Regions from separate parts of the Homo sapiens genome. Here region 2 is linked to region 1. A link means that fine-mapping ties the variant in region 1 to the expression of a gene that starts in the linked region. Tissue or cell type: cerebellar hemisphere. Region 1 holds a variant in brackets; the other region holds the start of a gene. All regions are shown on one strand. Distances are between the middles of the regions. Region 1 holds the start of LOC124903091 (U6 spliceosomal RNA). Region 2 holds the start of SINHCAF (SIN3-HDAC complex associated factor).

Evidence for each region. PIP is the estimated chance that this variant, and not a neighbour inherited with it, causes the effect.
Region 2: it holds the start of SINHCAF, and the variant in region 1 is fine-mapped to the expression of SINHCAF in cerebellar hemisphere (GTEx, PIP above 0.99). The same link has a PIP of 0.9 or more in cerebellum.

The regions. Positions count from the first base shown.
Region 1 is chr12:31,359,191-31,367,520 of GRCh38, reverse strand. LINC02387 (long intergenic non-protein coding RNA 2387) reads left to right here. Exons shown (of 2, transcript NR_146469.1): 2 at 3,726-4,040. It overlaps LOC124903091 (U6 spliceosomal RNA), which reads right to left and starts at 1,257; the gene lies at 1,155-1,257. RefSeq lists an enhancer at 2,503-3,002. The variant A/G (reference allele first, on the strand shown) is at 4,946.
Region 2 is chr12:31,322,736-31,331,065 of GRCh38, reverse strand. SINHCAF (SIN3-HDAC complex associated factor) reads left to right here and starts at 4,916. Exons shown (of 6, transcript NM_001135812.2): 1 at 4,916-5,042. It overlaps FLJ13224 (a long non-coding RNA gene), which reads right to left and starts at 6,750. Exons shown (of 1, transcript NR_026806.1): 1 at 5,121-6,750. RefSeq lists an enhancer at 4,896-5,827.

The sequences.
Region 1 (8,330 bases):
CTAATTTTGTATTTTTAGTAGAGATGGGGTTTCTCCATGTTGGTCAGGCTGGTTTCGAACTCCTGACCTCAGGTGATCCACCCGCCTCGGCCTCCCAAAGTGCTGGGGTTACAGGCGTGAGCTACTGCGCCCAGCTGAAAAGTATTTCTTAGAGGTTTAAATGAGTGATGTCAAAACTCTTTGAGGTGATGGATATGTTAATTACCCTGATTAGATCATTACACATTGTATGCCTATATCAAAATCTCACATGGTACCGCATAAATATATACAATTATTATGTGTCAATTAAAAATAATAAAAGCAGAAAACTCCAAATAAAATGTTTAAAAAGCTTGTCACACTTCAAAGTCACTTGGCACATTAAAAAATAGTTTCTCCTGCTTCACCCTTGAGAGGTTAATTTTATGGAATTGGGGCAAACCCAGAATCTGGTTTTTTTTTGTTTTGTTTTGTTTTTTTGAGACAGAGTCTCACTTGTCGCCCAGGCTGGAGTGCAGTGGCTCGATCTCCGCTCACTGCAAGCTCTGCCTCCTGGATTCATGACATTCTCCTGCCTCAGTCTCCCGAGTAGCTGGGATTACAGGCGCCCGCCACCATGCCCGGCTAATTTTTTTGTATTTTTAGTAGAGATGGGGTTTCACCGTGTTGGCCAGGATGGTCTCGATCTCCTGACCTCATGATCCGCCCGCCTCGGCCTCCCAAAGTGAGCCACCGTGCCCGGCAGAATATGTATTTTTAAAAACCACCCAGGTGATTCCTAAATTGCTGCTACAAAGACCAGTTTGGGGAACTTGTGATCTAAATGCTTATCTATATTTTGTATGTTTGGTTTTTTTCAAAATGAATATAAAAAGTATGAGGCTGGGCACAGTGGCTCGCGCCTGTAATCCCAGCACTTTAGGAGACTGAGGCGGGTGGATCGCTTGAGCTCAGTAGTTTGAAACCAGCCTGGGTAACATAGTGAAACCCCGTCTCTACCAAAAATACAAAAATTAGCCGGGCACAGTGGTGCATGCCTATAGTCCCAGCTACTCCAGAGGCTGAGGCAGAAGAATCCATTGAGCCCGGGAGGTGGAGGTTGCAGTGAGCTGAGATCACGCCACTGTAGTCCAGCCTTGGTGATAGGAGTGAAACACTGTCTCCAAAAAAAAAAAAAAAAGGAATGCTTGATGAATTTGCGTGTCATCTTTGTGCAGGAGCCATGCTAATCTTCTCTGTTACCGTTCCAGTGTTCCAATTTTAGTACATGTACGGCCGAATCAGGCACTTTGTTTTTTAATGGTGTTTGGAAGTGACAGTTTTAATTTTTTTTTTTTTTGAGGCGGAGTTTCACTCTGTTGCCCAGGCTGGAGTGCAATGGCATGATCTCCACTCATTGCAACCTCTGCCTCCCAGGTTCAAACAATTCTCCAGACTCAGCCTCCCAAGTAGCTGGGTTTACAGGCACCCACCACCACGCCCAGCTAATTTTTGTATTTTTTAGTAGAGACGGGGTTTCACCATGCTGGCCAGGCTGCTCTCAAACTCCTGACTGCAGGTGATCCTCCTGCCTCAGCCTCCCAAAGTGCTGGGATTAGAGGCGTGAGCCACTGTGTCCAGCCTTTAAAACATTTTTAAGTAATGGAGGCCAGGTGTGGTGGCTCACACCTGTAATCTCAGCACTCTGGGAGGCTGGGGTGGGAGGATTGCTTGAGAATCAGGAGGTGGAGGCTGTAGTGAGCCATGATTGTACCACTGCACTTCGGCCTGAGCAACAGAGCAAAAAATATAAAATAAAATAAATATAATATAAAATAGGCCGGGTATGGTGGCTCACGCCTGTAATCCCAGCACTTTGGGAGGCTGAGGCAGGTGGATCACAAGGTCAGGAGTTCGAGACCAGCCTGGCTAATACGGTGAAACCCCATCTCTACTAAAAATACAAAAATTAGCCAGCCATGTTGGTGGGCGCCTGTAATCCCAGCTACTCTGGAGGCTGAGGCAGGAGAATCACTTGAACCCGGGAGGCAGAGGTTGCAGTGAGCAGAGATCGTGCCACTGCACTCCAGCCTGGGCAACAGAGCCAGACTCCATCTCAAAAAAATAAAATAAAATAAATATTAAGTAATGCTTTGCATTTCTGGAAAACATTCCTTTTCTCCTTCCTCCCCACCCACAGTGGGCTTCAACTCACCGGCCTCCTTTCAGTCCTTACCTAACCTACTGTGCTGTTCTCATAGTACTCGAAGCTCTCTTCTGGCTTCCCGTGATTCCTGGCTTTCTCCTGTCCTCTCTGGCAACATATTTTTGACTTTCTTTTGTGAATGACAATTGGCAAGACTTTCTTCCTTTACTATCTTTCAAAGCAAGCACTGTTGCTGCGTAAGGTGTCCTAGAAACTCTGGGAAAGGGTCCCAGGGCCATGTTAACTACTCCCATCACGGGCGTCTAGGTGCTTGGATTTTCAAGTCTCCATCTCTCACCATTTCTTTAAGAGGCTTTCCAGATCCCCGCATGTCAACTGCCTACGAGGCATTTATTCTCAGATGGCCTACAAAGCACCTCAAACTCAGTATTTCTCAAATATTAAGTTTCTGTCCATGTTTGCCCTCTGTGCCTCACAGCTTAGAGAATAGCTCCACCCAGTTACTCAAGCCAGAAACCTTGGGGTGTCCTAGTCATTCATCTAGTGCCACTGTCCTAAACGCTGGGGATACCAGAGACTACAAACAAGAATCCCTGTCCTCATTGAGCTTATGTTCCAGAGGAGGAAGACGGACATAAGCAGTCAGTTCCTACACCCAGGGACGCCAGCTCTGCAGCAGCGCTGCTGCCAGCCATTCAGCCTCTCCAGCACCTCAGTTCAATCCCCCCACCTGCCGCACCCGCCAGCTGGCCTTCCTCTGCTCTTTTACTCTCTTCAATCCATTCTCCCCACAGCAGTGATAACCTTCCTTCTTTTCTTTTCTTTTTTTTTTCTTTCTTTTTTTTCCCTTTCCTTTCTTTCAGATACAGTCTCACTCTGTCACCCAGGCTGGAGTGCAGCGGTGCCATCTTGGCTCACTGCAACCTCCTCCACCTCCCGGGTTCAGGCGATTCTCCTGCCTCAGCCTCCCGCATAGCTGGGATTACAAGCACCCACCACCATGCCCAGCTAATTTTTTTGTATTTTTAGGAGAACCAGGGTTTCACCATGTTGGCCAGGCTGGTCTCGAACTCCTGACCTCAGGTGATCCGCCCACCTCAGCCTCCCAAAATGCTGGGATTACAGGCGTGAGCCACTGAGCTGGGCCAGCAGTGTAATCTTTCTAAAGCCAAATCTTAACCGTTAGCCTCAAGCTTTAGGATCTTCATGCTTGCAGGATAAAGTCCACCCTTACAAACCTGGGTTAAAAGATGGTACAAGTTCTGGGCCCTGCTGGCCTCTCCACAGCACTGCTCACCCTCAGGCAGTGCTCTCTGTGCAGCCATACTGAGTTACAACCATGGTTCACTGCACCTGCCGTCCCCCAACTCCCTCCTGCCTCCCTGCCTGGTGAACTCCTGTCATTCTGTAGGTCTCAGCTTGGATGCTGTGACAGGGAGCCTCTAGAATGGCCCCCAGTGACCCCTATCTCCTAGTAATCCCTTTCCCTTGAGTGAGCTGGATTTACAGATGCAATTTTGAATAATAGAACCTTGTAGAAGGGATGAGTTGTCACTTCTGAGATTAGGTTATATAAAGACTGTCACTTCTTTCTAAGGGCTCTTTCTCACTTGGATGGTCCCCAGAAAGTCAGCTGCCATGTCACGAAGTGCCCTGTGAGAAGGACCTGTAAGGAGGGACGGAGGGAGGCCTCTAAATGACAGCCTTCGAGGAACTGAATCCTGCTGGTGACCATGTGAGGGAGCTTGGACTCCGGTCCCCCTGTGTTGAGCCTTCAGATGAGTTGGCAGCCCCAGCTGGTGGCATGACTGTAACGTCCTGAAACACCTTCAGCCAGAAAGCATTCAGCTAAACCACACCTGTATTTCTGACCCAAAGAAATTGTGAGATAATAAACATTTCTTCTCTTGAACTGCTATACCTTAAGCTAATTCGTTACACAGCAATAGATAACAAATACTACCTCTGGACCCCTGCCTGCCACCATACCAAATTCCATGCTCTGAGTTCTAGAGTCAGTGGTGTTTCCACCTGTCATGCCCAGCCCTTCACTGCTAGTATTATAATGAGGGCTTGCCCATATCTCTGCCCCCAGATGGCAGACTCTGTACAGGAAAGAAGGAAGGAGGAGTGGGAAGTCACCACTTTCTTTCTCAAGACTCTGAGTCTCTATTCTGCTGCTGGCCACATGTTTATACCCACAGTGTCAACAGCGCCTGGCCCCAAAGTGCAGCTGCAACTTCAGGAAGAGACTCAGGCCAGCCAGAGCCAAAGCTCTATGGCAGCCACCTTCCTCCACCTCCTTCTATTACACTTCCCTCCACCTCCCTCCATCTCCTCAGTCTTCTCAGCCAGCTTCCCCTGACCCTTGAGCACCAGGCAAGCATGCACACACACAGGCACATGCAGGCATGCACGCACGACACCAGGCCCACAGCCTCTCTTTACTCCAGAGGAGCTAGGTGGAGTCACTCCTCCCTCCTTTCACACACACCCTGGGGCCACGCTTTTGTGGCTTTTCTGAATGAAAGGGGAGGTGAGGTGGGGGTGGGGGAAGCCGTCTCTGCCTTTGAACTGCCCAGTTCCTCCACCTTTATTTCCAGCTAACCACCGAGTGCCTGCAAAAAAACAAAACAAAACAAACCAGAAAAACTAAAAAAGGAGCCCAAGTGTCTCTTGCTGCTTTCAGTTTCTGGAGAGCCAGCACACAGGTCACCCACTATCCCTGCCGAAACCCTGAGGTCTGAGGAAGGCCTCTTCACACTGCCTCTGGGCGCTGCCTTTGGCTTCCGGGAGCCCCCCATGCACTTCCCTGGA[A/G]ACAGGTGGAGCTCTGTCCTGTGGCTCTGATTCACTCTCCTGTCCCTCGGTACACCATTGCGCCGTGTCCTCCTGCTGGCCCTTCTGTTACCCTGTACTTGCTGTACACTACCACGGTGGCCGGGGGCCTCAGCACCAGGAAAGCAACTTCCCCCGTGTCCTCCCCAACTCCTGAGTCCAATCCTTCAAGTCTATGGTGCCGAAGCAGGGGAAATGAATGTTGGAGAGACATGCCTGGGTCTGAACTCACCTCTATTGAAGGAAAACAAAGCTCACTAAGATTGCACCCTACGGTGTGTGCTTCTGTTCTCTCCACCTACCGTCAGCACTCTCAGCAGTTTTCCTCTTGGCTCTGCCTCCTGCAATTACTTTCTGCTCAGCTGCTTGCTGTTGCTAAGAAGGGTTATGCCCATCAACTGTGCTGTAGACATGCAGTATTGTGACGATGGGAGGGACATGGCTTGGAAGGTGGCTTTAATTTGAATTCTGCCATTTATGATATTTGGCCCTGGGTGTGTTACCTGATCGTCCTGTGCCTTATCCTCTGCGTCTGCTAATAGACCGTTTCCCAGGGTTGGGCAGAGATGAAATTAAATAAAACCACACACACTACAGTGCATGGAATGTACTAGGTGTTCAATAAATGTTTCCTTTTTTTTTTTTTTTGAGACTGAGTTTCGCTCTGTTGCCCAGGCTGGCGTGCAATGGCGCGATCTTGGCTCACCGCAACCTCCGCCTCCCGGGTTCAAGCGATTCGCCTGCCCCAGCCTCCTGAGTAGGTGGGATGACAGGCACGTGCCACTATGCCCAGCTAATTTTTGTATTTTTATTTTTAATTTTTTCGAGACAGAGTCTTGCTCTGTTGCCCAGGCTGGAGTGCAGTGGCGAGATCTTGGCTCACTGCAACCTCCACCTCCTGGGTTTTAAGCAATTCTCTGCCTCAGCCTTCTGAGTAGTTGGGATTACAGTCACGTGCCACCATGCCCAGCTAATTTTTTGTATTTTTAGTAGAGATGGGGTTTCACCATCTTGGCCAGGCTGGTCTTGAACTCCTGACCTCATGATCTACCTGCCTTGGCCTCCCAAAGTGCTGGGATTACAGGCATGAGCCACTGTGCGCGGCCAAATGTTTCTTGTCTTGTGTTTCAAAAGGACTTTAAGGCCAGGCACAGTGGTTCATGCCTGTAATACCAACCCTTTGGGAGGCTGAGGGAGGAGGACTGCTTGAAGCTAGGAATTTGAGACCAGCCTGGGCAACATAGCAAGACCCTGACTCAACAAAACTCTTAAAAAACCAAAAGCATTAGCCTGGCGTGGTAGCATGCACCTGTAGTCCCAACTTCTCTGGAGGCTGAAGTGGGAGGATCACTTGAGCTCAGGAGTTGGAGGCTGCACTGAGCTATGACTGCACCACTGAACTCCAGCCTGGGCAACAGAGTGAGACCCTGGTTCTAAAAATAAATAAATAAATAAATAAATAAATAAATAAATAAATAAGGACTTTTAACAACCCTTGTACTTTTTTATTGGAAATACGCATAGAAAGCAAAGAAGATTTTGAGGTCTAGCTGATAAAGGGCCACATTCAGTCTTTTATTGGTTTTTTGGTGAAGCAGGAAGACGTTGAGGGTGGTATGAGGATACTACTCTTTTATTGGTTTTTAATCTGACTTACCCTGCCGTGCTGAGTTAATGCTGTGGAAAACAGCTGCTCAAATGCCAGAGGAATGGATGTGCCTGAACCTGCCCCTGACTCCCAGGTGGTAAGGTGTTTTTCATGTTTGTGTTCAGGTCTCTGTGCCTTTGCTTTGGCCTCACCACGATGGAAGGGAAGTGCCCACATCGCAGGGAGCACACAGAATATGACGGCTAACATGCTACATCCAGCCTGCCATTATCCGCAGGGGTATGGCGTCATTGGATTCACATTTATCATTCAACTTCCAGATCAACAAAGCTTGTCTTCATAAATTAAGTGCATCCAAGTTTCTTTATATTGGCCACAGCAGACACAGAGGATCCGCAGCAAATCATGGATTTCAGTGGTCTTTTCAAATCAGTCAAGTTTAGGTCTAGTATGTGCTAGTGCCTAACTCTAAGCATAATAAGAAGAGGAGCCAAACACATTATGTTGAGATTTTTAGAAATTTAACTCAAGGTTGGGCGTGGTGGCTCACGCCTGTAATCCCAGCACTTTGGGAGGCCGAGGAGGGTAGATCACTTGAGGTCAGGAGTTGGACACCAGCCTTGGGCAACATGGTGAAACCCCATCTCTACTAAAAACTACAAAAATTAGTGTGGTGGCGGGTGCCTGTAATTCCAGCTACTTGGGAGGCTGAGGCAGGAGAATTGCTTGAATCCAGGAGGTGGAGGTTGCAGTGAGCCGAGATCACTCCAGCCTGGGCGACAAAGCAAGAATCTGTCTCAAAAAAAAAAAAAATTTAAATCAATTGTAGGAGTTTCTATACACACAGAAAATCCATTATTAAAATAGTTCAACTTTTTCTCTACAATGTGAAAAACTACCGTAGTTCTGTAAACCAAGGTTTAATCAAGAGCAGATCAAAATTGAGTTCTGAAGTCTACATACTAACTTCTTGATAACATAAACAGGAAGAGGTATAAAAGGCTATTTTGGGCTGGGCACAGTGGCTCACGCCTGTAATCCCAGCACTTTGGGAGGCTGAGGCGGGCGGATCACGAGGTCAGGAGATCAAGACCATCCTGGCTAACATGGTGAAACCCTGTCTCTACTAAAAATACAAAAAAAAAAAAAAAAATTAGCCAGGCGTGGTGACGGGCGCCTGTAGTCCCAGCTACTTGGGAGGCTGAGGCAGGAGAATGGTGTGAACTTGGGAAGCGGAGCTTGCTGTGAGCCAAGATGGTGCCACTGCACTCCAGCCTGGGGGACAGAGCGAGTCTCCGTCTCAAAAATAAATAAATAAATAAATAAATAAATAAAAGGCTATTCTGACAGTGGGAGAGGCAATTTAGCATTTTATATAACTAAAATCAGCACTTCAAAGAACACTGCAGAGGGGCTTCTACTCTCAGCCAGTCTCCAGGACAATGTCTGAACTTGCCCTCCACCAAGCCATTTAGGGTTGTTTGCCATTTAAAATGATAAATACTAGTCATCACTTATAATAATTGGTATGGCACTTAAAGAAAGCAAAATAAAGTTGTCAGAGAAGGAGGCTGGTTGGGTTTGACTAGTTGCTCAGACAGTATTGTGTTGCTTTATTTAGGTCATAATGCCCAAATTCTCAGCTTTGGAGGGCCCCAACTCTCCTATTTTGCTAGGATAGTTGAGGTGATCACTCAGGCTCACAGAGCTAACAGTAACCAAACTCCTAAGAGACAGATGTGCAAGCCAGGTGCCAAT
Region 2 (8,330 bases), 36 kb after region 1:
ATGATCATTAAATGTTTGCTAAAGGAATAAAAATTCAAGCGTTAGGGATAATTCTACAGCGAGACATACATTATAAGAAAGTAGTTAGCTTTCAACTTCAAAATGTTTGAAAACTACTTATGAGTTCAACATAGCATTGTAGTCATTAAAAAATACTCAGGGCAGGGTGTGGTGGCTCACGCCTGTAATCCTAGCACTTTGGGAGGCCAAGGTGGGTGAATTACCTGAGGTCGGGAGTTTGAGACCAGCCTAACCAACTATGGAGAAACCCCATCTCTACTAAAAATACAAAATTAGCCGGGCATGCAGGCTCATGCCTGTAATCCCAGCTACTCGGAAGGCTGAGGCAGGAGAATCGCTTGAACCCGGGAGGTGGAGGTTGTGGTGAGCCAAGATCGTGCCATTGCACTCTAGCCTGGGCAACAAGAGCAAAACTCCTTCTCAAAAAAAACAAACAAAAACAAAACAAAACAAAATCCGCAGATATTTTCCTAGCATGATGTAATTCAATCTCTTGTAATACAAATTGATATATTATAAATTACTTCTTGTATTTCCTTCTTTCCTTTTTCACGTTGAAAAATTCACTTGGGCAATTTAGGTAGTAGTAGTTAAAAGTAACCCATACATGAGCTATTGGGCCTGGGTAGGGCCATCCATAATGACATGTTCAAGCAACAAACTGGACAAAAGAACCTTCGGAATGCACTTGGTTGTTCAAAAATAGCAGGTGGTTGCTTTAAAAAAAAAGACTATGGAATTCCGATTTTTCTTTGAGAATTTTGTTTATTGCAATAGGATTATCAAAGAAAAATTAAAAAGTAATAAAAAATTTTAAAAAAGAATTTTGTAGCTACCCTTCCTAAAAAACTTACCCAGATTACTTCTTGACCTATACTTTGAGAGCAGAGGAAGTCTGGCTACATTAACTCAGTAGCTCTGCAACTTCTAGGTACTTTTTTACCTGAACGGTGTATCCTAAGTACTGTAATTCCTGCATTGCTTGCACATTTGCGTTTATTATTCCATCCCTGTATTACAATAAAATTTTTTTTTTTTTTGAGATGGAATCTTGCCCTGTTACCCAGGCTGGAGTGCAGTGGCGTGATCTCGGCTCACTGCAACCTCTGCCTCCCGGATTCAAGCAATTCTCCTGCCTCAGCCTCCCAAGTAGCTGGGATTACAGGCACGTGCCACCATGCCCGGCTAATTTTTTTGTATTTTTAGTAGAGACGAGGTTTCACCATATTGGCCAGGCTGGTCTCAAACTCCTGACCTTGTGATCCACCCACCTCGACCTCCCAAAATGCTGGGATTACAGGCAGGAGCCACCGCGTCCGGCCACAATAAATATTCTTTACATAAACTTTCAAGAGAAAAAGCATTCAAGGTACGTGTGTGTGTGTGTACACACTTACATATATGTATATATATACTCCTGTAAACCATAATTGGAGTTTAAAAAATATTATTATGGTATTTACAATTTTCTTTCTTTTCTTTTCTTTTTTTTTTGAGATGGAGTCTCGCTCTGTCACCCAGGTTGGAGTGCAGTGGTGTGATTTCAGCTCACTGCAACCTCTGCCTCCTGGGTTCAATCGATTCTCCTGCCTCAGCCTCCCAAGTAGCTAGGACTACAGGCGTGCACCACCATGCCCGGCTAATTTTTTGTATTTTTAGTAGAGACGGGGTTTCACCATGCTGTCCAGACTGGTCTCAAACTCCTGACCTTGTGATCCACCCGCTTCATCCTCCCAAAGTGCTGGGATTACAGGCATAAGCCACCGCGCCTGGCCAGTATTTGCAGTTTTCATACCTTCAGAGGCATATAATAATTTGAAATTATTTTTGGAAGATCTGTCATAAGCCAAATAAATATTTGAGACAACCCAGGACAATTGTTAAAATTCTCTTTAGAAAGAAGGCAGAAATTTATGATTAGGGTCCAATTTGCCACCAGTGGAACACAGAAACAGCTATTAAGCTTATTCATTTTTATTGTCATAAGGACAGGGCTGGCATATCAACCAATGTGACCACTATAACTTCCAAACTCATTTTAGGTCAAATGCAAAAATTGTAAACTAAAGTTCTGATTAGCGATAAACCTGTAAGAACCTTGAAAATGTCCATTAATTTTTTAAAATTATATTTATATATTTATTATTATTATTATTATTTTGAGACAGAGTTTAGCTCTTGTTGCCCAGGCTGGAGTGCAATGGCTTGATCTCTCGGCTCACCACAACCTCTGTCTCCTGGATTCAAGGGATTCTCCTGCCTCAGCCTCCCAAGTAGCTAGGATTATAGGCATGTGCCACCACGCCCGGCTAATTTTGCATTTTTGGTAGAGACGGGGTTTCTCCATGTTGGTCAGGCTGCTCTCAAACTCCCTACCTCAGGTAATTCACCCACATTGGCCTCCCAAAGTGCTGTGATTACAGGCGTGAGGCACTTCGCCTGGCCATTATTATTATTTTTTGAGACAAGAGTTTCACTCCGTCACCCAGGCTGGAGTGCAGTAGTGCGATTTCGGCTCACTGCAACCTCAGCCTCCCAGATTGAAGTGATTCTTGTGCCTTAGCCTCCCAAGTAGCTGGAATTACAGGTCTGTGCGAAAATGCCCAGCTAATTTATATATTTATTATATATATATATATATATTTTTTTTTTTTTTTTGAGACAGAGTCTTGCTCTATTGTCCAGGCTGGAGTGCAGTGGCGTGATCTTGGCTCACTGCAACCTCCGCCTCTCGGGTTCAGGCAATTCTCCTGCCTCAGCCTCCTGAGTAGCTAGGATTACAGGCATGTGCCACCACATCTCAGCCTCTCGAGTTGCAGGGATTACAGGTGAGTGCCACCATGCCCCACTAATTTTTGTATTTTTAGTAGAGACAGGGTTTCACTATGTTGGCCAGGCTGGTCTTGAACTCCTGACCTCAGGTGATCCACTTGCCTTGGCTTCCCAAAGTGCTGGGATTACAGGGGTGAGCCACCATGCCCGGCTAATTTTTATATTTTTAGCAGAGGCAGGTTTTCACCATGTTGGCCAGGCTGGTCTCGAACTCCTGACCTCATGTGATCTGCCTGCCTTGGCCTCCCAAAGTGCTAGGATTACAGGTGTGAGGCGCTGTGCCCAGCCGTTTATTACATTAAAAAAAAATTTTCCTAGCCAACTAATGCATGCAAGATGTCAGTATATATTATCTGATGTGCACTGTGTCAGGCACTGGAATACAAAGATGGGTAAGAAAGGCATAAAATCCTTGTCTTTAAGGAGCTCATATTTTAATGAGAGGTGTCCTTTTTCTTTCTGTTTTTTGTTTTTGTTTTTGTTTTTGTTTTGAGACAGTCTTGCTCTGTCGCCCAGGCTGGGGTGCAGTGGCGCAATCTCTGCTCACTGCAACCTCCGCCTCCCAGGTTCAAGCGATTCTCCTGCCTCAGGCTCCCGAATAGCTGGGATTACAGGTGCCCACCACCACGCCAGGCTATCTTTTCAGGTATTTATAATATAGTTTTCATATACAGTTACAGGAATAGTATGTTACAGAACCTAAAGAAAAATAAAGAAGTATTAGTTGAGGAGTTCAGAAGTGGGTTTATACTGTATGTACTAGGAATTGCCTGTTGAATTAAATTAACATTTCAGAAGTAACTATTTAAATCTGTATTGTTGACACTGCAGTGAAAGCAGCGAAACGTGTCAGCAGATGATTAAGTTTTATGGTTGATTTTCACACTTTTGTAACTTGGGACCAATATCAAGTTTCTGGGAAAAACATCCTTCCTCTCTCCCCACCCTCTATCATTAACCCCGGGTTTCTGCCTGTTGGTGTTAAGTGTGTCCTTGGGACAAAGGCGAATCAATCATTCGGTTTTCATTTTCCTCTTATCAATCTGAGAAGAGTTACTTCAGTTTTTTTCTTCCGGAGTCTAGAAAGCGCTTAGATTGTTGAATTATTACATATTCTGCATTGAAAAGTCTGTACGTCACTCGTTATTTTTTCCATTCCCAAGACCACCAGTTACTGGAATTATTTCTGGGTGAGTGGAACACCCTTTACAAGCTGCTAGAGGAGGTATGCCTGTCCCTAGGTTATTGGCTTTCCAATGCCTAGTCTTTTAAAGAAAGCGGCACTGTTCCCACGGAAATTAACAATCATTCAATTCGGAGAGACTTGAAATCTTAAGGCCGAAGTGGAGGAAAAAACTGGATTGTTATGGGTTGGGTTACTATTTGAGAAGGGCAAGCGGGAGTTAGCGAATGGCTAGGGTGTTAAAATGGGACTTTATTAAACGACTCATTACAACTGCACAAAAACTAAACCTTTGCTGGCCCCAGAGGATTTTTTTTTTACAAGCTTCAAAAACCTAACTTCAAACAAAATTTAGGAAACGTGGGATTAGTATAAATTCAGTCTGGGTGCTTACAAGACCACCTCCTCTGTCACCGACAGTGGGGACAGGTGTGAGAATTTTGCAAAAGCAGCTTTCAGAACAATTTTTCAGCGCTCAATGGTGCCCCTAACAACTTCGGGGGCGGAAAACACGCCAAGCAGCGCAGCCCTCCCCTCAGTTGCTAACCTTTCCCTTTCCCACCTCGCCTCTCCCTCTCCGCCGCGGCCTGCAGCCGGGGGGGGGGGCGTTTGTTTATGTGACGTCCGCCGTAGTAAGCAGTCCCCGCCCCCGTTTCCCTCTGGCCGCCGCGTTTCCCGCGCCGCGGAGCTTCTCCCCTTAAAAGGACAATAGAGGCCTCGGGAGCGCGCGCGGTCGCCGGGACTTCTCCCCCTCCCAGCCCGCAACGTGCGCGCGCCCGTATGCAAATAAGTTCGATTCAAGAGAATTTTGTGCCGGGAGCCGCGCGTGCGCAGAGGGAAAGCGGAATCTACACCTTCCCGGCCAGCGGTAGCAACTGCAGAACTGCAGGAGACTATCTTTCTAGACAAGGCAGTTGAGGAGGAGGGAGCGCTTGAGGGGGACTGGCCTGGCGTGCACTCCGCACCTCGGGGACATTATTGCGCGTGGAACGGCTGCTTTTGGAAGGTGAGTGACTCTCACCATGCTTCTAGTGCAAAACTGTCTCACGAGGCTTTGATTTCAGTGTTTTTTTTTTTCTCTTTTCACCTCCACCCACCTCCCCCCGTCCTTCCACATACACACAGGAAGTTTTGTCTTGGAGGTGGCATTGTTGGGAGCGCTGTTTTCGTGATCTTCAGACCCCAGGTTCTTTGGTACGCTCGTGTTTAGTGTGTATTTATTAATTGGGGAGGGTATTTGAGGCAAACCGAAAGTCTCGGGGCGGGGAAGTGAGTGGAGCCTGGGCATAATTGAGGAGTCGCCGGAGTTGAGGGATCCACGTTGAAGGTGACAATGACTTTTCTCCGCCGCAGTGTTCTCTCGCGGAAAGGAGCCCGGCGGCCGAAAGGCCCGAGAGGAAAGCGACTCGTTGGCCACCGCGCAGCGGCCGGGGTCGGTGCGTCCGCGTGGGCGCGAGGCGCGGGCAGGGTCGGGCGCCGTTGTGAAACCTCGTGGTTTAGTTGACTGCAGCCCTCGGACTAGGGTGGACAATAAACGCCATTCGCTCGGAAACTAAGTTGCCATCCGCTTCCGAGCTGGCGGCCGAGGGTCTTTAAATCGGCCTTTGGGGGTCAGTGCTGGGCTCTGCCGGAGCGCACGCGGCGTGGCGTTGTTTGCTCAACTCCGGAGGGATGCGGATGCGACAATGAGAGCAACACGCGGTCGCTTAAAAACAGCCCGTCTTCCACTCGCCTGCCCTCTTCGGACCGCGCCCAAGAGCCTCTGGTGTCCGGGGTGCTTTCGGAGCCCGAAGTTTTGCTCCCGGTGCGTTCACCTGTAGCGTAGGTGTGGGCGACACCGCGAGGGCTTCCCGTTTATGGGCGGCCGTCCGCGCTGTAAGATGGCCAGGGAAGCCAACTTGGCTGGAGATGGAGGCGGCGGCGTTGTGTACGCCGCGGGAGTCAGTGAACTCCGCAGGGCACTGCTTTTTGTGCTCTACGTGACAGACCACGTGCTTCGGGCTGCGACCCTGGTCCTTGTCCGAATGTCCAGCCCCGCGTGAGCCGTGGGATGCGGCCGCCGTCGGGCAGGTCCGGCCGGCAGGACAATGTGGTTTGCTGATGATGGCGTCTTGCCAGTTTAAAAAGCAGAGTGAAAGTCGCCAACTCTCCGCCCGTGCGGGGCGGATACTCCGGGCGTTTCTCATCAAGGACACTGCAAAACTTTGATTAAATGGGCCTGCTCCCGAGGGGAGGGTCGGGGGGCCAGGCTCCGGACTCTTCGGGGCGCGGGGTCCGGACCCCTACCCAGGGTGATCGTCCAGTGTCCGGCCCCTGCGAAACGCTCCGACATCCCTGATGCTGCACGTAGGCAGCGCCCGGCTGGACAGAAAACAAAGGGCTGCATGTGCCCGTGCGGGCCCCCGGCGCTCGGGGCCGCCGCCTGGGCGTAGGGCCGTGCAGGTCGGAGGCCCTCGAAGTTCGGGCGAGTTTCGGGAGGGGCTTTTGTCCCTCAGCCCCCTCGTGGGGAAACTTTGGCGGCGCTACTTGTGCGAGGTGCCATGCTGGTGCGTAGGGAGGCGGCGTGCTTCCCCGCTCCGGGCGTGCGGGCGGGCGACCGAGGGAGGCGGCAGTGCCCGGCGCTTCAGCCCTGGCGTCGGGGGTTGCGACGGCCGAGGGTTCCGGGGAGCTTGGCCCGGACTGCTCGGCCGGTTTCTCGTGGCCCGGGAGCCTGTGTCTGGGAGGTCTGTGGGTTCGCCTTTGAAGTCGAACTGTTGCCATGTTTGAATTACGTCAGGGCAAAGCCATGAGGAGGAACAAGCCCCGGCAGCGCGGCGTGCGGGAGGCGCGGCCTGCGGGAGGCGCCGGGCCGGGCTGGCGCGGGGCCCGTTGTTCCGGCGCAGGTGAGGGAGGTGGCGGCGAGCGACGCGGTTCACCTCCCGCTGCCCTCGCCCTCGCCCCGGCGAGCGGCCCCCGCAGGAACTTTCCTCCCGACGCGAGATGTCTTATTTACCAACAAATCCACCAGGGAGCATTCTTACTTGCTGGCTCGGCGTCTCTCTCGGCAGTCACCGGAGTGCCCGAGGGGGAAGCACGATTTACGGAAGGTGGGGACCCGAGGGCCCTGGGAGGAGCGGGGAGGCATTTTACTGCTTTCAGAGAAACGGGTGAGGGCGGCGAGCACCTCCTCCCCAGCCGAGCTGTGGCCCGCAAGTCCAGGGGACCCAGCCCCGACGACGCCCGATAAACCACCGTGGGGAAGTTCCGGGGCTCCCTGTTGCCCTACTAAGGGAAGTGAGGACTGTGGGCGAATTGTGCGTGCGGCCAGTTTCTTTGTGTGTTTCTAGGGGGTGGGGGGAGCGGGGAAGGGCAAGGTTTGTTTTGGTGTAGGGGGAGTTGGTTTCTTGAGGTGGTAGGGCGGTGCAGTTTGTTCTGGTAACTATGACCCTAGTCAGTTTCTTTGTTTTTATTTTCTTCCTGTAACCTTCCATTACTTCAGGCACTCGGAAGATTAGGATTTACTCTTGAGTTAAACAGGGACCCTATCCGAGACAGTTTTACCCCAGCAATTCTTTCTCCCCCTTCTTAAGTTGTCCTAAGGAGGGTTAAGAAAAGCTTTTCTTTTTCTTTTAATAATTTAAAAATGAATTTGACCTTGTTATTCAGAGTACGCTGAAAGCACCTGTTTTTGAACTGGAATTTGCCAGACTTGAAAAGCCTTTTAAAATTTTATGTCGCAAAATTGAACACATTTAGTTGCCCAATCTAAAAGTCTGGGAGTTTGTTTCTGGTGGAGTTTCGGAGAAAACCCTCATGGCATTTAAAGTATTTATATAATGATTTTGGGAAGGGGGATCTTTTTTAGGCGAAAGGTATGCGTGACTCAGTGTTTGGTGGTTATTCAGTGCCTTAGGATGACCTTGAAGAAGCAAATGTTTAGGGAGTTGGGCCTTTTGGAAACATTGTAAGGAGGCTGGGGAGCTGGCTGGGGAGGAAGCTGCTCAGGAAGATGACACAGGGTAACGGCTAGCTTCTTCCCAGATCCCGTGAACTGTGGTTGACCTTCTGGTTACCTCTCCTAGATTTTTCTTTTCAAGCTAACCTTTTCTTTTTTTGTATGTGGCCCCAGGCATAGCTCAAAAATTATGCTGGTTTGACACATGGATGCTTCTTTGGTATTTGGGGTTTGCCTGTAGTCTAGACATCCGATACCCACCACCATATCTGTTGCTTCTTTCCTGATTTCTCCTGCATTTGAATCATGTGTAAGGCCTAGAATCTAAGTGATCATTACTAGGAAATAATACCCTTGAAT